2 separate regions of the Homo sapiens genome follow, and region 2 is linked to region 1. The links come from fine-mapping of genetic effects on gene expression. Tissue or cell type: tibial nerve. Region 1 holds a variant in brackets; the other region holds the start of a gene. All regions are shown on one strand. Distances are from middle to middle.

The links. PIP is the estimated chance that this variant, and not a neighbour inherited with it, causes the effect.
Region 2: it holds the start of LINC02762, and the variant in region 1 is fine-mapped to the expression of LINC02762 in tibial nerve (GTEx, PIP above 0.99).

The regions. Positions count from the first base shown.
Region 1 is chr11:112,519,373-112,527,570 of GRCh38, forward strand. The region is part of intron 2 of LINC02763 (long intergenic non-protein coding RNA 2763); the gene reads left to right. Among named protein-coding and RNA genes, the nearest start is that of LINC02764, 32 kb to the right of the region's middle. The variant C/T (reference allele first, on the strand shown) is at 4,371.
Region 2 is chr11:112,267,041-112,275,190 of GRCh38, forward strand. LINC02762 (long intergenic non-protein coding RNA 2762) reads left to right here and starts at 3,709. Exons shown (of 4, transcript NR_126004.1): 1 at 3,709-3,743. It also overlaps the pseudogene ST13P10.

The DNA of each region.
Region 1 (8,198 bases):
GAAATAAAAATGGGAACAATAGACACTGGGGACTATTAGAGGGGTGATATGATTTGGCTTGGTGTCCCCACCCAAGTCACATCTTGAATGGCAATCCCCACCTGTTGAAGGAGGGACCTGTAATCCAAACGCGTGAAGGGAGGCAGGTGATTGGATTATGGGGGCGGTTTCCCCCATGCTGTTCTTGTAATGAGTGAGGTTTTTTTGTTTGTATGGTTTTTTGTTTGTTTGTCTTGAGATGGAGTCTCACTCTGTTACCCAGGCTGGAGTGCAGTGGCACGATCTCGGCTCACTGCAGCCTCTGCCTCCCAGGTTCAAGCAATTCTCCTGTCTCATTCTCCCAAGTAGCTGGGACTACAGGTGCCTGCTACCACGCCTGGGTTAACATTTGTATTTTTAGTAGGGGGGCGGGTTTTACCTTGTTGGCCAGGCTGGTCTTGAACTCCTGACCTCAGGTGATCCAACCCCCTTGGCCTCCCAAAGTGTTGGAATTACAGGCATGAGCCACCGCGCCCGGCCCCTGAGTGAGTTTTCACAAGATCTGATGGTTATAGAAGTGGTTTCCCCTGCTCTTCTCTTTCCTGCCACCTGGTGAAGAAGGTGCCTGCTTCCTCTTCTGCCATGATTAGAAGTTCCCTGAAGCCTCCCCAGCCATGCAGCTGAGAGTCAATTAAACCTCTTTCCTTTGTAAATTACCCAGTCTCAGGAAAGCTCCTCATGGCAGTGTGAAAACGGACTAGGACAAGAGGGAAAAGTAAGAGGGCTCCAGGGGCTGAAAAACTACCTATTGAGTACTATGCATACTACCTGGGTGATGGGACTCACTTGTCCCCCAAATCCCAGCATCATGCAATAAACCCATGTAACAAACCTGCACATGTGTTCCTGAATCTAAAATAAAAGTTGACTCTATATATTACATATAATATAAAATATATATAATATGAAAATACATAATATATGTAATATATATATATATATATATGCACTAAGCACTAAGAATGAAGCTTGTCATACTTTGGCTCTGATCACTATTCAGGTCAATTTGACTCAAGTCTCTTCTGTTCAAATTCAGAGTCACGTGGCTTCTCTGAAGCTCAGCCTTGCTGGGGACAGGGCTGGTACCAACTTTCTCTGTCATTTCTACAACAGGATCCAGCTGCATTTGGTGCTAACTGCCTCTCATTTGTTTATGAGGTAACTGCTTTCTCTCTTTTCATTTCACTCTCCCTTCCCTCCAATTTCCATTTCTTTTGTGAAATGGTTAAAGTGCTTGACATAATTAGCTGTTAATTGTTAGCAGCTGTACCCATTATCAGTTTAATGCCTAATTAATTGCAACAATTAATGCTGCCCGTCCTGTCTTAGGAACTGTTGAGGGAAGGCTGGTGTTGTTGAAGTTATATCTTAATTAATTTACCTCCAATTTTTAGCATTTAACTAAAAATCCCAAATTGGAAGCTGTTTTCCTCATATGAGTAATTGATGAGCAGAAGGTCTCAGTTCCACCCTTTGCAAGTTGAGTGTCTCTCAAAGTCAGTATCTGCAGTCAGGAAGTGGAGTTTCCAGCAGCCACCTTACTAGATGGTGGGGCCCTGTGCACAAATGTACTCTTCTCTGTAAATTTTTCTGTGCTGTATTGTTTTGAGAAAATGACAAGCCAAGAACCTCAAGAGCCAACAGCTTCTTCCACCAGACTTTGTTCAAAACTGCACTGGAGTACATATCCCATTGTAGATGACTTGTGTGGGAATCTGACCTGGGTTGAGCATCTTCATGGCAAGCCTGCCTGGGTCATGACTGCACCTCCAGCATTAGTAGGATGTTCAGTCCACTATTGAAGGGAAAACTGAGTGGATGAGTCCTAGTCTCAGCGTATCTAGCTTCTCCTGTGAGCCGGGCTTGGTGCTATATGCTTCACACACATAACATTTTTTTCCTAATTCTCAAAATAACCCTGCAATGTGGACATTATTTTCCTTTCTATCTTCTTATTTGTGGATGAGGAAACAAAGGCTTATAGAGATTATGTAACTGGCAAGTGATGGCATTATAGCTCAAGCCTACATGATTCCAATTGCAATACAGGCTTGCCACCTTACAATCTTACCTTTCTTTGAATGAATGAATAGGTGAATCTTTTGTCACTTTGTTCTGAGGTGATCCATTGACTTTTAGAGTCCTAGGACCCTACATCCCTTTGGGCAATCCCACTGTCTATCATCCTATGAAGAGGCCAATCCTCGTACGGGAGATGGAGAATGGGCCAGGTGGGCTTTTGACTTGGCAGTGGGATATAAAGGCAGGTGGCAGAGGCAAACATAAGAAACAGGTCCCTCTCTTTGGGTCTGGGGGAGTCAGGAAACTATGTATACCTCAGCTATGGGAGGTGTGCTCCAGGACTCTGTGCTGGACAGAAAGCTTGTCCTTGTAGTATGACACAGACCAGGACCTGGGTGGGGGACACCACCACTATAAGACACCACTATCGTCTTAGGGCTTCAGCTCTGAGAGGAGCTCTCCGTAACATCCAGGTGTGGTAGGCTAAAATAATGGCTCCCCAAAGATATCCATGTCCTCGTCCCTGGAACAAGTGAATATTACTTTATATGGCAAAAAAAGGCCTTTGCATATGTAATTAAGGATTTTAAGAAAAAGAGATTATCCTGGATTGGTTAGGTGGGTCCTAAAAACAATCATATGTGTCCTCCTGAGAGGGAGGAAGAGGGATATTTGACATTTAAAAAAAGGAGAAGGCAATGTGACTGTAGAGGCAGAAATTTAAGTGATGCAACCACAAGTCAAAGAATGCCAGAAGCCACCTGGAACCGGAAGAGACAAGGAAGGATTCTCCCCTAGAGCTTCTGGAGAAAGCATAACCCTGTCAGCACCTTGATTTCAGCTCAGTGATACTGGCTTCAGACTTCTGGCCTTCTAGAACTCCAGAATGAAGAGAATAAATTTCTATTGTTTTAAGTCATCAGGTTTGTGGTAATTTGTTAGGACATCCATAGAAAACGAGTATGCCAAATTTGTTTCCTTTGTTATAATATTTTTGTTATCTCTAAGTCTTCAGCAAAGTTTTGTTAAGCATTAAAAAAGACAAGAGAAAAAAATTGCGATGAGAGCTGGAGTTTCTTCAGAATTATCTGGTTGAGAAATTTCTTGGGGTACATATACAACTCATTATAATAACTTCAGGGTGGCAAATTTAGGATTAGGTCTTAATGCATATTTAAGAAAACACTCAAATACTATATAGCTTAAATAAAGGAGAAGTTTTTTTTTTTTTTTTGCATAAAACAAGTCTAGAGTTAGGCAATCCCAAGCTAGTGGGGGCAGCCAGCAACACAGAGTTGTCAGGAACCAGTTCCCTTCTAATTGCTCAAGTGTACAGTCCACATCCTCGTGGTCCAGGATGACTGCTAGAGTTCCAGGCATCACATCTGAGTTCCAGAAGCAGAATGGAGAAGGCAGAAAGAAGGGTCCACCTTCTCACTCTTAAGGAGGCTTCCAGGAAGTTTCTCACACATTTCTGCTTATGTCTCTTTGGCTAGAAATTAGTTACATGTAACACAGCTGCAATGGATGATTGGAATTGGACTGTTTTACCCAGGTGACAGTATGCCCAGCTAAAAAATTAGATCCTGTTGATGAAAAGAAGGGGAAATGGATATTTGGAGGCAACTAGCCATTTCTATCTCACCAACTATTCAAGTTCTAGACAGTGAGGGGGAGGGATATAAGTTAAATTATAATTAACTAATGTGTGGGCTTTTTTTTTTTTTAAGACCTCACCTGAAGTAGATTTTAGTTCTGATGCTGCAGTGTAGTCTAACGTTTGTTTGTGTAAAGTATCCAGGCAACCATGGATAGAATGGCTGTGGGTCTGAAAACCATAAGGAACAGGAGAGGAAACAGGTTGTTTAGGTGAAAAAGAGTTTTTTTTTTTTTATAAGGACAAAAAGATCTGTTTTTCAATAAATTCCTGTCCTATGGATGTGAAAATGAACTACATCTGTGATAAGATAGAAGGGGAATGGGGTGGAAGGGAGGCCAATTTTAGCTGAATAGGGAAAAGAAATTTCTAACAACTGAAAAGCCGGCAATGGTACAGCTGCCTCTCAGAGACGTGACTCCCTTTCTGGGCTGGGAGCTGCGGGGGTGCTGGGAGTGAGCCTAAAGCAGGGGCTGGACTGGATGACTTCCCTCTGATCACATGACTCAGTGGGGAGGCCCTCTAGGAGCTTGTCAAAGATCACAGTGGAGGACACAGCACCGTGGGGGACTGTGTCTAATTAAGAGACAAATGAATGAGGCTGTCAGGGAGAGGGAAATTTCCATGCCCCAGGGTAACAAAGCTACAGTTG[C/T]TGCTGGGCTAAGGCCTGGAGGTCTGTGCCAGCTTCCCAAAAAAAGAATGTAGGGAGTGTGGCTTAAGCTTGGTGCCCAGCCCTGAATCTGGACAGCCCAAGGTGGGAGGGGCCCAGGACAATGGGATGGCGGGGCCTCATTTTATTTGCCTCCTGCTGTGCTTAACTTGGTAGGGGCAGTTAGACAGTTCCCAGCATCTTCTGAGACAAGCCTGGCAATCCGAGGGTGTCAGGGCCAAAGATGAGGGCTGGAGGGGAGAAAAAACCTGGATCTTTTGTCTGTATCTATATGGAATTACAGACTAAAGTCTTCTGGACTTCATGCTGAAGCTTCTCCAAAAGGCTGTGACTTGGTGCATGACTGTAGGCTATTTTGTGGATGTTTGAATGATGTTAGCTCTGTTGTGGGGTAATCATAGGTCATGCACTAACAAGAGCTGCCTTTCTATCCAGAAGAAGCACAGTGGCTCTCCTTCCATGAAATGATGGCTTGTCCCCACTGTTGTGAGCATACAGAGAACAGGAAACATGTTTAAGGCTCTGTCTCAGGAACCTGTGGTGGTCTGGCCTATTTTGATTGCAAGTGGCAAAAGCCACCCCCCGAACTAGCTTGAGCAGAAAGGGAAATTTCTTGCCCCCTGTCACCAGAAGTAGATCTGGCACAGTGGGTTCAACACCTCGCACTCTGACATTGGAGCTCTCCTCTTGCTCTGCTTGGCATGGTTCTTTTTGCATATTGGCCCAGACTCTCTGACCTCAGCCAAGCAGTCACCTGGAAGAGATGGTTCGGGGAGCTTCAAACTTACAGCTTGCATTCCAGCTACCCCCAGTCACCTGGAAGAGATGGTTCAGAGAGCTCCAAACTCACAGCTTGCATTCCAGCTACCCCGTGTCTTCATCTCCCCTCTGTTCCTTAGCCAGAGGCCAGTTGTCTCCTAGACAAGTGTCCTGACCAGAGGGTCTTTGGAAACAGGAAGACCCTTAGCAGGGAGCGTGTAGAGAAGTCCCAGCATGGTTCTCAGGGTCTTCCATGCCTTCCTTCTTCAGTTCCTCAGGAGTGTGGGAAGGATAATTTGTTTATATGTGACCAGGCACCTTGCCAGTATTTCTGTCAGCAGTGCCAGGGCTCTGGAAGGGCTTAACGTGGCTGCTCCCAAGCCCTGGACAGGAGCTGCAGCCAAGGAACTCATGACATGTCTCTGAGCGGGCCTGAGCTCCTCAGTCTTTCCCGTCACCATTCCTTGTGTTGGCCTGACCTCAGAGCCCTCAAGCTCTGGACCCAGGCATGACCTCGGGCCCTTTGCTTACTGTGTGTCAGCTGCCTGAGGAGGGCCTTTGGTCTCAGCCTGTAGCTGTGGCCCCTGGAGCCTGTTTTGGAATCATCCCAACAAAGACAGCTTTGACCTCTCCCCTGGAGGAAGCTGCTTTGACAAATGCTGAGATGCTGTTTATGCCTTCTCAGGCTGGATTGCAGGGTCACAACCTGCTCCACTTGCCTAAAAAAACATAAAGTCTGAGGTTTCCTTTTGGGACAGGACCAGGGGCACAGGAATTTAAAGGGTTTGGACATATCTATTAAGCAAGAGAGATCTCAGTAAGACTTGACTTCTATGTTGCCACCATGTGTTCCCTGTGGTTTTTGCCTGTAGGAATCGGGGTTCCTCATGGTAAGCAGTTGAAGCCAATTCTGGCTGACACAGCAGGAAAGGTTTAGTAACAGGATGTTGGGTGTCTCACAGAATCAGCAGAGCCTGGGAAACCAGGCCCCAGGCTACACGTGCAGAATAATGTTCCACTACACGTGGCAGAACTGGCTTAATGAGAAAACTGCTGTGGCACCGCCACTGCCGCCAACTGGATGTTCTAATTTGTATCACAATTTGCCAGGAACATGACCATTGTCACCACTGCTGCCTTCAGTGTCCATGCCACATCTGGCCCCAGAATGTCACCTTATCATCCCAGCAGCTCCTCAGCCACCTGCTTATGTCTTAGCTGCAAAGGAGGCTGGGAAAGTGACTGTTATTGTTTCTACTTTTAGGAGGCAGGATGCATAGGATGGAAAATTCCTCTAATGTAAGAAGGGTGTTTAAAGGGGCTGGGCAGCCAGGAAACTTGACAACGGCCCACCATACCAGCTGTGTAAGGTGTGTACCGCAACTTTGAGGGGAAGCAGTTTGCATGTAACTCAAGGGTGCTGCCTGAGATGGCTGATGCAGTGACCGCATCCTCAGAGGGGAGTCATAGAGGAGGAGAGCCCTCCAGGGTCAAGTCATAAGTGAGAAACACAAGTTCCTGGTGCAGTGATGGGAGGTGGGGGCTTGCAAGGCAGTTTCAGTGACGGTGTCTGGTGTCTTTCCTTTCTGCATCTCCAGGGAAAGATGAGATTTGCTGTGAGTCACTCTAGTTGGTCCTAGCTTCCAGCCCTGGGTTGCTAGACTAGATTAGCAGACTTTCCAGAGTGTGTTTTCCTTAGAGTTGATTGAAGCAAAATGCTGGGCACCCGTCTAGGATTCACCTAGAAGGAATCAAAGGAGAAAGGCAACAGAGTCCAAAAGTGGGACTTAACCCAGCAATGTAATCTGTTTTAAAAATAACTTCTTCCTGTCACTCTCAGCAAGATGTGGCTCCCACAGAGCCTTGCTTGGGGTCTGGGCTATCCAATACCTAAAACGGGTTTCCAAAAATAAAGCTGACATTTATTGAGTGCCATGTGTCAGGCACTTTATGGAAGGCTTACACAAATTATCTGAGTTAATCCTCACAGAAACACCATGAAGTATGAGCTATTATTACCCCGTTTTACAGTTGAGGAAACTCAGGTTTAAAGAGGATAAATAACTCCACTAATGGTTAATTAACCAGTATCAGAGCTGGGATTTGAACCTTAGCAGCCTGACCTCAAAGCCCACGTTGCTAAATTGTCTCTCTAGAATCTTGAGCTAGAAAGTAACTTGACCTCCCCAACATGAGGTTTACATTCTGCTTGGCTCTTCTAGAGTTCAGTCTAAATCAAAGTTAGAAAAAGCTATGCTGGGTAGACCTATCTGTGCTAGGTCCTGCACACAAATATGTAATCTAAACTTCTGGGTGGGGCAGCCCCTTCCTTAGTCACACAGCCCATCATCCTCAGATGCTTCAATCTGAGGTCTGACTAAGTCAGCAAGTGCGAGCAAAGGGTGACCAGGGTGTTGAGCTGAGACTGCAGGCAACACCTCCCTGTAGGGGTGTGAGGCTCTCACTATCTACAGGAGAAGCAGGAAACTGCCCACATCAGCAGGAGACTCCAGATGTCTAGGGAAGAAGGAAAAGAGAGAATCATTGAAAAGGAGATAAATGGAGAACAGAGGGCTGACTGGGAAAGAATGAGGATCCCCCAGGGATGTCTCAGTGGGCTGGAGGAGTGCCCTCAGACTGGATTAGACTTCTCTCTGGACCCCCTCCCTCCACATGCTTTCTGATTGTGTCTTTGGGTGGTTGCAGCCTCTACCAGATGACTGCACATTACACAATAACAAGGGCGAGTTGTGGGATCCTCCCTGTGGTAAGTGCTCAGTGCATGTTTGTTTACTGAGATGAATAAATGAGTCCTATCCTAGGGACAGCAGGGATTTGGGAAAGTGGAGAGAAATCCAGCCTGAGGAAGGAAATCCTTAAAAAACAAAAGTCCTCTTTGAGATTAGGTTCTACGTCCAGGCTAGGCAGAGGCAGTCCTGGAGAGGTGAACACCTGGCAGGTGGCTATGCTGCCTGCTGGAGGGTCCACCACAGAGCCCTTCCCACTCCATGGAGGCTGCTCATGCTCTGTGAGCCCCTGGGTAACAGCCTG
Region 2 (8,150 bases), 250 kb before region 1:
TCCCTTTAAATTTGTTTTAAATATTTTTAAGGTTTAAAAAGGGTTTAAAGTTTGTAATTCCTAGTAGGAAAATATTATCTGAATGAATACCCTAATGGCAAACCATGGTAAATGCTTCAGCTGCATTTGGGGGAGAGGGATATGGATTATCTTCAAAGCACCCCTGAGGTACGCTGGTTTGTATTATTGCAACATCCATAAGGTGATCTAGGTTGCTTTTCCTTCAGCACGGTCTTTATCAGAAGGACATTACTCTTGACCTCCAAATTTGGCTGACAATTTACTGATAAGATTCATAACCTTTGGGTTGCCCTGGTATTGTGACATATTTGCTGGGTTTTGAGCCACATCCTGGAAGAGGCCACCATAACTTTGGGATCCTGCACGGCTGCAAGAACCTCTGGATCACTAAGAATTTCATTGAGTCCAGTTATTCCGGCCATCCCAGGCATGCCCCCTCTCATTCCAAGCATTCCCCCAGGAAGTCCATCTGGAAAAGAGCCATACTGAGCTACTGACTGTCGTCTGGCTTCTTCCTCCCTCTGGGCTCTCTCTTGCTCTTCTCGAGCCTTCTTAACTCTTTCTATTCTTTCTTTGATCTCTCGCTCTTCACGTTTTTGCTCATACTTTCTCTGATGTTCCGCAATGTCTGTGCCCTAGGCTGAACTTCTTTCAGCATTGCACTAGCATCTTCATCATAATCCAATTTACAGGCAAGGGCAAGATCATGGGCTGCTCCTTCCCAGTGGCCTAGAAGTCTGTGTGCTTTACCTCGCCACTTGTAAGGCTGAGCTGAAATAAATTTCAACGGCTCTGTCACAGTCTCGGATGGCAGCATTTGGCTTCTGTAATTTGATGAAGACACTGGCCCTCTTGGCATACAAAATGGCCAACTGAGGATTCAGCTTGATGGCATCTGTGAATAAGTCAATGGCTTTCTGCAGTTCACCATCATTTAGGGCTTCAATAGCAGCCACTTTCTTATGATTTGCCTGATCCATCATCTCCTCTGTTATCTCTGCATTTTCATCTCCCATTTCTTGAGGGGCATCAGGGTCTGGTTCAATCACATCTTCATTATCAATTAATAGATTACTTTCCTCACTTGATGGTTCGTCTGCCTTTAAGTCTTCCTCCACCTTCTTACTATCAGGTTTTTCTTCCTTGGTATTTTCTTCTGATTTAACTTTCTGAGTAGCAGGTGATAGTTTACCCCCCATGCTCTCCACCCACTCCCTCAGGAAGTGCATTTCCTTGGTGTGCAGAACGCTCAGATCCTGCTTACACATTTTCACAAAAGCCCGAAGTGCATTCACTTTGTGGGGGTCCATGGTCGGGAGGCGGTGGACGAAGCTGAGGGGCCGTGGCCCGGTTCCAGGCCTAGGCACTGGCTCAGTGTGACTGCGCAGAAGGGGGCACCTATTTATTTTTTAAATGTCCTTATTTAACAAAATGAAAACGTAGCACCTATCTAGGTGCCTAAAATCCAAAGTTTTGAAACCAGAGATCTAAAAAGATTTAGTTTGCATCGTAACTTCCAGAAATGCCTTGCATTACTGTGGCAAAAAGCAGGAATTGCTAGCATTTAAGTAGGAGTAGGGAGGTTACGTCTCAAGAAGGGTGTTCAAGGACCCCTTTCTCACTGAGTAGGAGGTCAGATCTTTTAAGCTTCTCTTCCCAACATTAGAATCAGTCATCCCCCCAAAATTGGACATTTATTTCAGTCACTTTTAGGGAGAGATCAGTGTTGAGGGCACTTAGTGGTAGAGTGAGAGCAGGGGTTGGTGGGTGAGAAAGTGAAACTGGACAAGAGAAGTTGGGACTCAGAGCTTCCCAGTCCCCAAACAGAAGAGGAACTGGGAAGGTATTTCCAGCTGCGGAAGAGGAAGGTTTGGACACTCTCTTTACATGGCTAGTGTGGCTTCTTCCTTTGAGAGGAAAGAATTCTCTGCTTGAGAGGAAACCCACTGCAGGAACCTGAAGAGAACTAAGCCCACCTAGGTCAGTAACTGGAAACAAGTGGCTCTTCCTCTGTCCTGCATAGCTACACTTAGAAATTTCATGGAAAGGTGTGACATTTTATCAAGACATTTGGCTGCATTGCTCCTGCTGTTTAACCAGAGGATTCAGCAGCAAACAAAATAAGACAAAACAAAACAAAAAAACCAGGACGGTTTAATGAGTGGGACATGAATTGGAACAGGCAGGATGAACTGTGGGTTCCTGTGGTGGTCTGACAAGGATGTGACGAGGACACCTTTCCAGGGGCAAAGTCAAGGCCATGTGCTCTCACAGGAAATTCCCTTCGGTTAAGTTCCTGAAGAGTGTATTGATTTTCTGATACCCTGCCTTATTCAGGTAGGACTTAAAGCAGCTTACAGGAAAACAAGATTTAAAATGTAAGAAGTTAAGGATATAGGGAAAAGAAAGGTAGAGCAGAATGATAAGAGAAAGGTGGGGTTTGTGATCGTGGGAATTTCCGTGCTGGCATCTCCGTGTTGGTTCTGTTGTTGCAGGTACTGGGAGGAGGAGATGAACCCTGCTCCTGTGGAGGCTATGAGGTATTGATGTCGTGTACACATCCAAGGGGTGGTCTAATTATTTACAACTAGGCTCCTGAAAATCAGCCCTGAATCCAGCTTTCTACCTTCTCTTTTCAATATCATTTAATTAATTGAGTCACAGAAACAGCCTTTAATTCATTTAATTCCCTTACATTCTTCTAACTTCTGCCATATATCTCGTGATCTGTGATTTTTCCTTTTGCACTGATTTGATACTATGTAGTAGCAACTAAATATCGTTACTTATACCATAGCAGCTAATCTTTCTTATCAACAAAAACAAATAATGTCCACATTCCTGAAAACAATTAGGCTCTATTTCTAGCCTTGTGAACAAATGCAATTTTGTCACTTACATAATTTGTTATTGATAGAGTAACTTCAGAATTATTTGTAGTACTGCTTCCTGAGACATATAAAATCATATTAATGATTTTTAATAGCAATCAATAATAACATTTATTAAATACCCACGGTGCTTCGAATCTTTCAGTTGGTCAGTCAGCATTTATGTTCTTAATATCACTCCCAAAGCGTCATATAAACAACTTCTTTTTTTTTTTTTTGAGAGGGAGTCTCACTCTGTCACCCAGGCTGCAGTGCAATGGCACAATCTCAGCTCACTGCAACCTCCGCCTCCTGGGTTCAAGCGATTCTCCTGCCTCAGCCTCCCGAGTAGGTGGGATTATAGGCACCTGCCACCACACCGGGCTAATTTTTGTATTTTTAGTAGAGACGGGTTTTCACCATGTTGGCCAGGCTCATCTCAAACTCCTGACCTCAGGTGATCCGCCCGCCTCAGCCTCCCAAAGTGCTGGGATTACAGGCGTGAGCCACTGCACCCAGCCCATAAAAACAACTTCTAACCTCAGGAAGCCTACACTCCAATGGGAAACCAAGGGTGACCCCAGACCAATTTATGCGACTGCTTTATTTCCTTATCCACAAAGTGGGGAGAATGACAGTGCCCATCTCATAAGGCTGTTGGGAACTTTTAACGACATAATACTTGTGGAGCGTGATGGCTGGCATAGAGAAAGCACTGGATAACTGCTTGTTTTCCTTCTTCTTGTTATGATTGGAGAGATTCCGCGGAGGTGGTGCCTGGGAGCTGGCCACACCTCCCCCAGAGGGAATTTCCGAGTTTCACAGGTTTCTCTCCCTTCTGAGCAACGGCAGGTGAGTCAGGGTCGCTTGTGCTCCCCTCCAGCTCTGGGATGTATGCTGTCCAGCTGGTTACGAGTCTCCATGGCATCCGAGGAAAAGTGGAGCTGGCTGAAGGGAGGTGGAAAAGAAGGGCAACAAATTCCAGTTTCTTGTGAAACTTTGTAAACGTAAGGCTCTTATCTCAGTCTGCAGAGCAGAAACAGGGTGAGGGCCATGGATCTGAATGTCTCCACCTGTGCATAAAACATATGATTAGAGCTGAAGACCTAGAAGTCCCTTCCCCAGGCAGGGCATGAACTCTTCTGTTTCTAGAACCATTTAGGGAGGTGACAACTTGGCTTCGTCCCAGAGATTCAGGTGAGGACAGAACAGAGGGCAGGGTGTTCTTGCCCTGAGTTCCCCGCTAATGAGCTAATCCTGGCCCTTCACCTTTGTTTGGCATGAAGTTTACCAGAAAAGGGCATCCTGCCTTTATCCTTGGTTCTCTATACCCTCGCTACTTTTCCTGTGTTTTGTAAACACGGGATGGTGTATTTAGCTTTCTTTTGCTGGAATTATTTTCACCCCATGTCCTGTGTCTTCCTTGTCCAGAAGAAATCATCTTCTAGCCTAAGAGCTCCAGAGAAGGGTGTGCAGGGGACGGCCATGTTCTGATGCATGCATTCAGCTGTGTCGAACAGTCTTCCTGTTTTGCTACTGTCTGAGAATATTCTTTTCATTCTGTGGGCTCCTGGGCCTGGGCTTTCCTTGGCTTATCTCAGGAATCTGCCTCTTGGTCCCTTTCATTGGCTGCCTTCTATGTTTAGGTTTGTAGGGGAAGGCCCCTGGAAGGTGGGTGGGAGAAGAGGCACCTCTCAGGAGAGGCTGAGGCGCAAAGATGCTCTTGTCCACTCAAGTCCATATTTATTTATCTTCTAATATACTTTGTTTGTTAGTTTGTATGCTTGTTTGTTTTGAGGGTCTCCTTCTGTTACCCAGCCTAGAGTGCAGTGGTGCCATCATGGCTCACTGCAACCTCAATCTCCGAGCTCAATTGATCCGCTTGCCTCAGCCTCCTGAGTAGCCAGGACTACAGGTGAATGCCACCATGCCTGGCTAATTTTTTTTTTTTTTTTTTGTAGAGGGTTTTTTCCTGTTGCCCAGGCTGGTCTCAAACTCCTGGTCCCAAGTGATCCGCCTGCCTTAGCCTCCCAAAATGCTGGGATCACAGATGTGAGCCACCCTGCCTGGCCTTCTAATATAATTTGGATATTCCATGGATATTCCCACCTTGATCTACATTAGGAACTTCCTGGAGGCTTGTGCTCAAGAGAGGTAGTATCTGCTTGCTCAGCAAGCAGAGGCTGAGTAAGTGCAGGACTCTGAATATGGTTGTGCAGCAGAGTTGTGGGTATTTGTGGGGACGTTGACCTCAGGCCCAGCATTTAGATTTAGCTAGCAGACATGCCTGGGCAGCTAAACTGGCAATGTCAGACCAAACTGCCTGGCCTGATATTGCCAGGCAGTTTAGCGTATCAGGGCTCTGCTTAGAAGCCACAATGCCAAGGCCTCATGACCATATTCTTCCACCCTTGAGAATCTTGTCCACCTTCATATCCCTCCATTCCTCACGCATCATGTCCTGGGTGGGTGCCCTGACACCTCATTCTCACCTCCATCTCCTTGCTCACTCATGTTTTCCAGGTTGTACTTGAGAGAGCCTAGGCCTTAGCGGTAGAGTTGGTTTCAAGTTGCTGCCCTCCCATCCCCTGGAATGTAACTGGCTTTCTGGGACTTAGTTTTTTTCATTTGTAATGCCTGCCTTGTAGTCCCATTGTGAAAATTAATCAATAATTTGTTTTGAGGGTCCAATATGTGGCAGGCATTGTGGTAAGCTTTAGGGCAGGGGCATAAAGACCAGTTAAGATTTCTCCTTTTTAAAACTTTTATTTTTTTGTAGAGATGGAGTCTTGCTATGTTGCCCAGGCTGATCTTGAACTCTTGGCCTCAAGTAATCCTCCTACCTGGGCCTCCCAAAGGAATTACAGAATGAGCCACCATGCCTGGCTTATCCCTCTTTTTGAATAGCTTTTGGTTAGTGTTAAGAGGCAGGTTCATAAACATAATTTCAAAATAATGCGTAAATGCTAAGATAGAGGTAAGCCTTAGGAGTACAAAAGAAGGGAAAGAATGCTTTTTGGGTAAATGGTGGATGAGCTGGTTTTCTTTCTCTTTCTTTCTTTCTTTCTTTCTTTCTTTCTTTCTTTCTTTCTTTCTTTCTTTCTTTCCTTCTTCCTTCCTTCCTTCCTTCCTTCCTTCCTTCCTTCCTTCCTTCCTTTCTTTCCTTCCTTCCTTCCTTCCCCCCTCTCTCTCTCTCTTTCTTTCTTTCTTCTCTCTCTCTCTCTCTGGAGTTCAGTGGCGTGAATCATAGTTCACTGCAGTCTTAAACTTCTGGCCTCAAGCAATCCTCCTGCCTCAGCCTCCCAAAGCACTGAGATTACAGGTGTGAGTCACTGCAGCCATCCTGGATGAACTGTTTTGAAGGATAGGGGTAGGTTGGGGTGAATGTTCCTGGAAGAGAGAAGTGTGGAATTACAAAACAGTGTGATGTGAGCAGGGAACAATGAAAAGGTAATGTTCAAGAAAAAGAGTGACAGATGCTGTTGCTGGCAAGTAAATAGGGGCCAAGTCATGCTAGGTCTTATAGGTCATGCTAAGCATTTTGAATTCTATCTGTAGGCAACAGAGTTTTATTTTTATTTGTTTATTATTTTTATTTTTTTCACCCGGAGGTGAAACAATTTTATTTCACAGTTGCCTTTAAAACCTCAAAGATACTATTTTCTTCATATAAAAATATTAGTACTGGGGGGAGAGGCCAAGATGGCCAACTAGAAACATCTGTGGTCAGAGGCTCCCACTGGGAGGAACCAAAATGGCAAGTGAATCCTGCACCAGCAACCAGGGTATCCAGGTTCTCTCACTGGGACTGACTAAGCAGTTGATGTGACCCATGAAGAGTGAAGAAAAGCCGGGTGGTGCGACGGCCCACCTGGGAGCCACACGGGGAAAGGGCAGCTCCCACCCCAAGCCAAGGGAGGTGGTTAGTGATCATGCTACCCTGCTAGAAAACCGTACTTTTTCCACGGATCTGCGCAACCCACAGATCAGGAGATCCCACTTTTGAGCTACACTACCAGGGCCTTGGGTCCCAAGCACAGAGCTGTGCAGATTCTCAGCAGCCACTTGACTGGAGACTGCCTAAGACCCCAGTCAAGTGGCTGCTGAGAATCTGCACAGCTCTGTTAAGTTAACTCTGCACAGCTTTGTTAACAGCTCTGTTCTGTTAACTCTGCTAAGAGTTTCCAGGGGGGTGGGGGCAGCCATTATCACTGCAGCTGCCTGCTGCCTAAGATGACTGAGCTCCCCTGAGTTGGGGTGGTGGCCATCATTGCAGCTCATGTCTGCCATTTTTCCCCTGGTGGTTTCATCTAAGCTCATAAGGGAAAGGAATGAGTGGAAGATGTAGGGGAGCTCACTCAGCAGTGGAAGTTTTAAGTGGCAGAGAGGGAAGGTTTGCGATGGAGAGAATAGTGAGAACGGGAGGAGGAGGTTGGAGGAATGTTCTGTGGAGGACAAATGGTGAGACGGGCTTTCTCTGAGGACAATGGTTGTGGTGTGACTAGACTGGCTGGTCCCAAGGGTCCAAAGGGAAGCCACTAGCCTATTAGGGCTGGGCTGGAGCGTACAGGTTCTGGATCTGTAGGTCAGAGGTGGGGGGGTCCAGGAACATGCATTTTTTTTTTTTTGAGATAAGGTTACACTCTATGGCTCAGGATGGAGTGCGGTGATGCAATCACAGCTCACTGCATCCTCGACCTCCCCGGATTCAGGTGATCCTCCTGCCTCAACCTCCCTATAGCTGGGACTATAGGCATGCACCACCACACCTGGCCAGTTTTTGTATTTTTTGTAGAGATGGGATTTCATCATGTTGCCCAGGCTGGTCTTGAACTCCTGGGCTTAACTGACCCACCTGCCTTGGCCTCCCAAAGTTCTGGGATTACAGGCATGAGCCACCACACCCAGCCAGGAACATGCATTTTTAATAAGCAACCTGTGACAGTGATGCAGATGCTGAAGGCCCCACAAGATGCTTATTTAAAATGCATTTTCCTGGACCCCACTCCAGATTTAGGAGCCATAACTTTTTGTGTCATTTTAACCAGCTCCAAGGTGATTCTTATGTGCCCTCGAGTTTGAGCTCCCTGGCTGGAAGTCTTCGTGGTCTTGGGCACATAGTGTTAGGTGGCATTCACTGAGGTAATGTAGGTACAACACCTAGTACAGGGTCTGTCTGGTCAATGACAGTTATAATGCACACTGGGACCCTTGGTGACATTGGTGGCTTACAGGAGGGTATGCAGGTCCAGTTCATTC